2 linked regions of the Homo sapiens genome follow. The protein of the gene in region 1 purifies or fractionates together with the protein of each later gene. This does not show direct contact. Each region holds a gene or a part of one and is shown on either strand. Other genes may lie near its edges.

What was found.
Region 2: the proteins of MAGED4B (region 1) and NSMCE4A purify together in Homo sapiens (affinity purification with western blotting, with the first as the bait; one study listed by BioGRID). This does not show direct contact.

What each region holds. Positions count from the first base shown.
Region 1 is NC_000023.11:52,061,288-52,064,038, reverse strand, and holds the end of MAGED4B (melanoma-associated antigen D4), read left to right. Parts: intron 1-288; coding exon of another isoform or gene 289-336; intron 337-565; exon of another isoform or gene 566-692; intron 693-937; coding exon 938-1,052; intron 1,053-1,374; coding exon 1,375-1,805; coding exon of another isoform or gene 1,806-1,809; exon of another isoform or gene 1,810-1,817; intron 1,818-2,000; coding exon 2,001-2,010; 3' UTR 2,011-2,212; downstream 2,213-2,751. UniProt on the Homo sapiens protein: May enhance ubiquitin ligase activity of RING-type zinc finger-containing E3 ubiquitin-protein ligases. Proposed to act through recruitment and/or stabilization of the Ubl-conjugating enzyme (E2) at the E3:substrate complex.
Region 2 is NC_000010.11:121,965,062-121,968,883, reverse strand, and holds part of NSMCE4A (non-structural maintenance of chromosomes element 4 homolog A), read left to right. Parts: intron 1-1,077; coding exon 1,078-1,229; intron 1,230-3,498; coding exon 3,499-3,598; intron 3,599-3,822. UniProt on the Homo sapiens protein: Component of the SMC5-SMC6 complex, a complex involved in DNA double-strand breaks by homologous recombination. The complex may promote sister chromatid homologous recombination by recruiting the SMC1-SMC3 cohesin complex to double-strand breaks.

The sequences.
Region 1 (2,751 bases):
CACCTGAGCTAACTGCGGCTCTCACTCGAGCATCCTTTGTGTGCTGGTCTGGCTGAGAAAGCAGTTCCCTATCCCAAATCTTCAACTGGAGGGATGGGTGCCTCTGACCTGGGAGTGAGTGGCAGTGGGGGGTATGCGAGTGTGTGGGGAGCCGAAGGCCAGGGCGGTCTTGGGAAAAGGGAGCTCACGTCACCTGAGAACACGGTGTGGGGTGTGAAAACGGCCGCCATCACCTTGAGCACCTGCCCTGTAGACTGACACAAGAGTTCCCCCTGGTTTACACCTAAGGAACCCGGAGCTCAGAGAGGAGACGCCTCTGAGCATGGCTCCCAGCTGGTAAGGGCCTCAGCCCAACTCTCCTGATTTTCAGGCCAGGGGCCACCCTCTCCCCGTCCCTGGAGGACTTGCCAACGCACAGGCGCGCATGCACACCAACAAAGGGTCAGGACTTGAGGAGGATGCCTGGAGCACGCTTCTCCTGGCTGACTGTTTCTTCCTCTCCAGTCGTTTCCTCTGGTGGGCCTCTCCAGGGCTCCGCCGGGGTGTGGCCAAGACCCTCGAGGTGGGGTGTGCTCAGAGCAGGGGGCCTGAAGAATGGCTCCTCTGTTTACAACACACCCAACAGGAAGCTGGGGTCATCGTGATGAGGGGCACAAACTTGTGGCCTCCCTACAGACAAATGCCCTACATGTGGACCCCCTGCACCTCCGCATGGCTTCCGGGGAGGACCAATGGCAAAAGGCTTTGAAGGCCTCACTTTTGCAGGCAGAAGTCCTGGGAGTGGGTTTGGGAATGAGTGAAGGGCTGGAGGGGCAGGACAGTCCTCTTCCAGGAGCTGAGCTGCGGCATCGGGTTGAGGAGGGGCCCCCTGGAACCCATCCGTTCAGCAACAGGTCTGCTTGGCTAGCAGCAAAGTTTACTTTCCTCTCATGCCAAGGTACCTGGAATACAAGAAGATCCCCAACAGCAACCCACCTGAGTATGAATTCCTCTGGGGCCTGCGAGCCCGCCATGAGACCAGCAAGATGAGGGTCCTGAGATTCATCGCCCAGGTAAGGGAGCGCCTCTGTTGGGTGCCCGGCACCGGGGGTGGTGCTCTCCACACCTTGCTTGTTTCTTGGTCGAGGCCTCCTTCCCATTACCCCGTATTCCAGTGAGGGTACCAAACACTCACAGAGGCACCTGAGCACCCTACACAAGGTCACAGATGGGGCAAAATCCCAGGTCTGGCACAGGAGAGTAGGAGCCCCCAATCCCTGTGGTCCTGATTTTTGCCATCATTGCACAAAGCACACGGGAGGGGGTGAGGCGGGCCGCGGGTGCTCAGCCAGTGTGGGGTAGCTCTGTGTCTATGCCTGCCCTTTTCCTCCTCAGAATCAGAACCGAGACCCCCGGGAATGGAAGGCTCATTTCTTGGAGGCTGTGGATGATGCTTTCAAGACAATGGATGTGGATATGGCCGAGGAACATGCCAGGGCCCAGATGAGGGCCCAGATGAATATCGGGGATGAAGCGCTGATTGGACGGTGGAGCTGGGATGACATACAAGTCGAGCTCCTGACCTGGGATGAGGACGGAGATTTTGGCGATGCCTGGGCCAGGATCCCCTTTGCTTTCTGGGCCAGATACCATCAGTACATTCTGAATAGCAACCGTGCCAACAGGAGGGCCACGTGGAGAGCTGGCGTCAGCAGTGGCACCAATGGAGGGGCCAGCACCAGCGTCCTAGATGGCCCCAGCACCAGCTCCACCATCCGGACCAGAAATGCTGCCAGAGCTGGCGCCAGCTTCTTCTCCTGGATCCAGTAAGAGTTTCGGTAGAGAAATGAGACTCTGCAGGAGGGCTGCGGAGGGGGGTGAGATGTCAGAGGGAGGGCCAGGGTGGGGGCGCTGGGGGCAACGGCAACAGCATGGACGGACACTTATTTTGTTACGTACACCCCTCCCTGGTTCGCGTGTGTCCACGGATGTTGTCACTTTGGTTTCTTGTGCTTTTATAGGCACCGTTGACGAACTGCAGCGATCTTACTGGCCAAGCCAGAGCGCCTCCTCTCAGATTCCTTCTCGACACAGCACCCTAGGCGGCTTCTTCCTGTCAGTCGGAGGTGGCATGCAAGATGAAGCTCTCTTTGCTCTTCCTGCTTTCATTTTGTGCTTTTCCTTGTGTTTTCATGTTTTGGGTATCAGTGTTACATTAAAGTTGCAAAATTAATTTGGATGTTTCTTCCTTTACCTGCACACCCATTGCTATACCTGGCCACGCTTGGGCTTGTAGCAAGGAAACTTCTTCAGGCTCTCTGGGGTAGGTGGGCCCCACCTCTGCCAAAAAGGCCCACAGGGACAGGTGGGATGCTGGGAGGTGCGGAGGTTGGTTACGCCTGAGTGCGTGAGCAGGAGTTTGGAGAGGCCCCAGTGCTCATCGTTATGTGATTTTCTACAAACCTTGCTCAGCAGCCCCAGGGACATGGCAAGAGTCGGGGCCACAGCAGGGGCGGGGTGGAAAATTGCAGCTTGGTGCCACTGCCCCTCCCGCCGAGGGACAGGGTCCAAGGCTCTCACCAGGACCCACCTCCCACACCCCCTCCTTGGAGATGATGTTCCGGAACCCTTGGCTCATCATCCACACAGTTCAGGACCCCGTCCTCGGTACAGAGTCTGACGGACAATGAGGTGGGCCCCGCAGTGATGTTCGCAGCCCTCCAGTGGGTAGAAGGAGGGGCCGTGATTGCTGAGGGAGCAGGATGTAATAAA
Region 2 (3,822 bases), on another chromosome or scaffold:
AAACTGCCACGTCTGCCTACAAGGGTGCAGTGGTAGTTCGGGCGGCAAGGGAATGGAGAAGAGCTGGCCATAGCGCTCTGACCAGGCTCTTGTAGCCTTTCTTTTCTTTAAAGTCTGATTGCCTTTAATAGGGTTAAGCTCCCTGAGGGTTTTGTGATTATTGTTTATATATGATATTGCCATCGTAATTGGATAACTTCTAGGCATTTTACAGTATAATGTAATAAAAATGTACTTTCATAAAAGTAAATTCAATATAACACATTTTCTGTAAGACAGTTTGAGATGAGAGAATTATTTGACTTCCGCCAACTCTTCCCAGGAAGGCAATTTTAAGATGAGCCATTCTCTCAGTGATGCCGGGCCACTGCTCTCTGGATATACTGAGATACAAGCTGAATAGAGATTTGTAGGAGGTTGGCAAAAAATTAAAATCTGAAAACCAGCTGAACTTCCTTGTGCTGTCTTGAAGCTTTTGATTTGGGATTTAATTTTATATTTATATGTTAGTGCAGCTTTACTAATACACGAACTATTGGTGATACAAAAAATCCCAGGGGGCTGAGTTCTGGCATACCTAAATACTTCTGGCTGCCAGTGGGCTACAGCAGGGTTTCTCAGCACTGGCACTATGGATTGGCATTTTGAGCTGGGCATGTCTTTGTTTTGGGGGCTGTTACTGTGCATTATATGATATTCAACAGCCTCCATGGCCTCTACCCAGTATATGCCAGCAGCATATCAGTTGTGACACCCACAAATGTCTCCAGGTATTGCCAGAAGACCCCTGTGGGCACGTATACCCAGGTTGAGAACCACTGGTCTAAATCATTTCACTTTCTCACCCAAAGGTTTTAAGTACATTGAGGAATGTTTTCTGCCAAAAAGAAGGTAGCTTTGGAAGCAGGACTTTAACTGTAAAGTTATCTTCACAGTAAGAAATTTAGCCAGCATGTTAAGACACTGAAAGCTGGCTTTGCGTCTGGCCTCTTAAAGGTTGAGTGATGCGGATTATTGGATGTGGAAAATGATTGCATGTGGCTTAACTGGGTTTTTTGTTTTCCTTCATTTTTGTAGCTCACACATATGGGTGTAAATCCGCTAGAAGCTGAAGAACTCATCCGTGATGAAGATAGTCCTGATTTTGAATTCATAGTCTATGACTCCTGGAAGATAACAGGCAGAACAGCAGAAAACACCTTTAATAAAACCCATACATTCCACTTTCTGTAAGATTATTTTAAAAATCCAACAGACCAGTTATTTGTGAACCTTAAATTGCTTTTTCTTGTAGGGACAAAGATTATTTGGTATTGTAGAGGTGACAGTCATGATGCCGTTGTTTGGAGACTTTTGAAACTTTGATATGAAAGTTCATAAACACTAGGCCGGGTGTGGTGGCTCATGCCTGTAATCCCGGCACTTTGGCAGGTGGATGCAGGTAGATCATCTGAGCTCAGGAATTCAAGATCAGCCTGGGCAACATGGCGAGAACCCATCTCTACCAAAAATACAAAAAATTAGCCCGCTGTAGTGGCCCATGCCTGTGGTCCTGGCTACTTGGGAGGCTGAGGTGGGAGGATCACTTGAGCCTGGGAGGCAGAGATTGCAGTGAGCTGAGATTGCGCCATTGCACTCCGGCCTGGCTGACAGTGAGACCCTGTCTCAAAAAAGAAAAAAAAGTCCATAAACTCTAGATGTGGATGGAACCTTAAAGGATCTCTCATTCTGCTTTAGCAGAAAAGGCCAGAACCTCTTTACCAGTGCTCTCCTGGCTCCTTTGCTTCTAGCTCATGAGACTCTGGGTTTATCATCTTTAAAATCCTTATCATATAGGAGGATGATACCTCCTACTGAGGGTATCTTATGAGTCTCCCAACGTCTAAAGTGACATTTATTATAATACCCTGTTAGATGACCACTGACTTGTATTTGAAGATTACTTGTCACTGCCACATAAACTGTCCAGTTCATTTTTTAGATAGAACTCTGATTTAAAAAAAAGATTTCTTTATATTTGAATGAAGTTGGCTTCTGTCTTAACTTCCTGGCATGGTCCTATGGAGAAATTAAGAACAGCTCTTACTGGCTCTTCTCTAAGAGGACCTTCAAGTATACTGGTTTTGTTGCCCAGTAAATACTTTAGGGTAGCCATCTGAGTTGTTCAGTCCTTCTTTAAGTGGTATAGCTCCTGGGCTTTTGTCTTTTCTAATTTGTCTTTCTAAAAACCATTGAGATTGATAGTAGCTCGGGTAGAAGGCCTTGGAGATGCCAATGTAGTAGTGTGGTGTGGGGTCTGGCATCTATTTTTAATAAGACTTCAGGTAACTCAGGTGCCCAGAGCCATTTGTGTATGTTCTATTTAATAGGATGTAGTCCAAACTTCTTCATCTTAGGATAAAGTCTAAATCTTTGTTTTTTGCTATTGTACTAAACTCATAAATCCTAGGTTATAAAGATAAAGCCTTAAACTTTATCTCATCATCCAGCCCAATTTCCAGCCACAATGAAGTACTTAAAACTCTGTGTCTTTGTACTTGCTGTTCTCTTGGCCTCCAATTCCTTTTCATCTTTTCCATTCGGTAAAGTTTGTTTATCCCACAGGCCCCATCTTGGAAGCCTCCAGCAACTTCTCCAGACAGAGGTGTTAGCAGTGTAGGATCAGATTTCTCAACCACGTCACTCCCATGTCTGGGTAGATATCTCTGCCCAAGTGTTCTCATAGCACTTGAGCAGTACTCTCTAAGCGCCCAGGATCTACCATGTTGCTTTTTTAAAATTTGATTAATTTATTTTTTTATACTGCTCCTTGTGGAGCAGGAGTGTTCCCAGAGTAGCCCACCATGTTATATTGAAATGGATCTGTGTGCATAATGCAGCTGTCCATCTACATCGTATATTTTTGTCTCCTCAAGGGTAGGGACCACATGAGCCTTATTCTTGGGGCTTTGATCTCTACATGATGCAGACTTACATCTATTACTGTAACCCAAGTCTGCATGAGGGCAGAATCCAGAAGGAAAAGGAATCCCATGGCTGTGACTTGCCCTGTTATCCTAAGACAGATGTGTTCTGTAGTCCTGGGCTGGGAGCCTCTGCCTTGGCCTCCCCAGATCAAAGTCTTCTGACCCCACTGGAGCTTCCCCACATACATGTTCATCCTTCCCCTGCTCTTAGAAGTTGGCTTTGCAAAACAATAGGTTGGGTGGTGGGAAGATGTCACAGGCATATTCACTGGCCTACTTTACAGGGCAGTATGTAGGTGTCTGAGGAGGTATCTGTGGTTGAGTAAAGCTCCTAGGAGTTCTTTTAGAAATACAAAGAAGGCAGAAAGGCTGTCACAAACCTTATCAAGAGTCTTACTCTGATGTCAGCTTGTATATCACTGATGTCTGGTCTGAATTTGACTATACCATGCAAACTACTTTTAGTTAGTAAAGTTAGTTTGTTTAACAAACAACAGGCAAAAAAAATAAATGAAAGCATACTTTTCATTAGGTTGGGTTCAATATACGGAGAGTGCCCTGTGCCAAAGCCACGAGTTGATCGTCCAAGAAAAGTTCCTGTGATACAAGAGGAGAGGGCAATGCCTGCCCAGGTTTGTTTTAAAATGTTGCTTTTAAAAAAACACATTAAAGTTAAAATAGCTGTTAAAATAATGTGCATGCAATTTGGCCATTTTTTCTAAGTGTGCGGGTCTGGAGCCAGGTTTTGTCACTTAAATAATCATTTTATTTAAGCCTTTAAGCATTTTATTGGATTGGCTGCTTGTCTTTGTTTTAACTCATTTCTCTAGTTTTGATCAGTTCTCCGAAGCCAGGG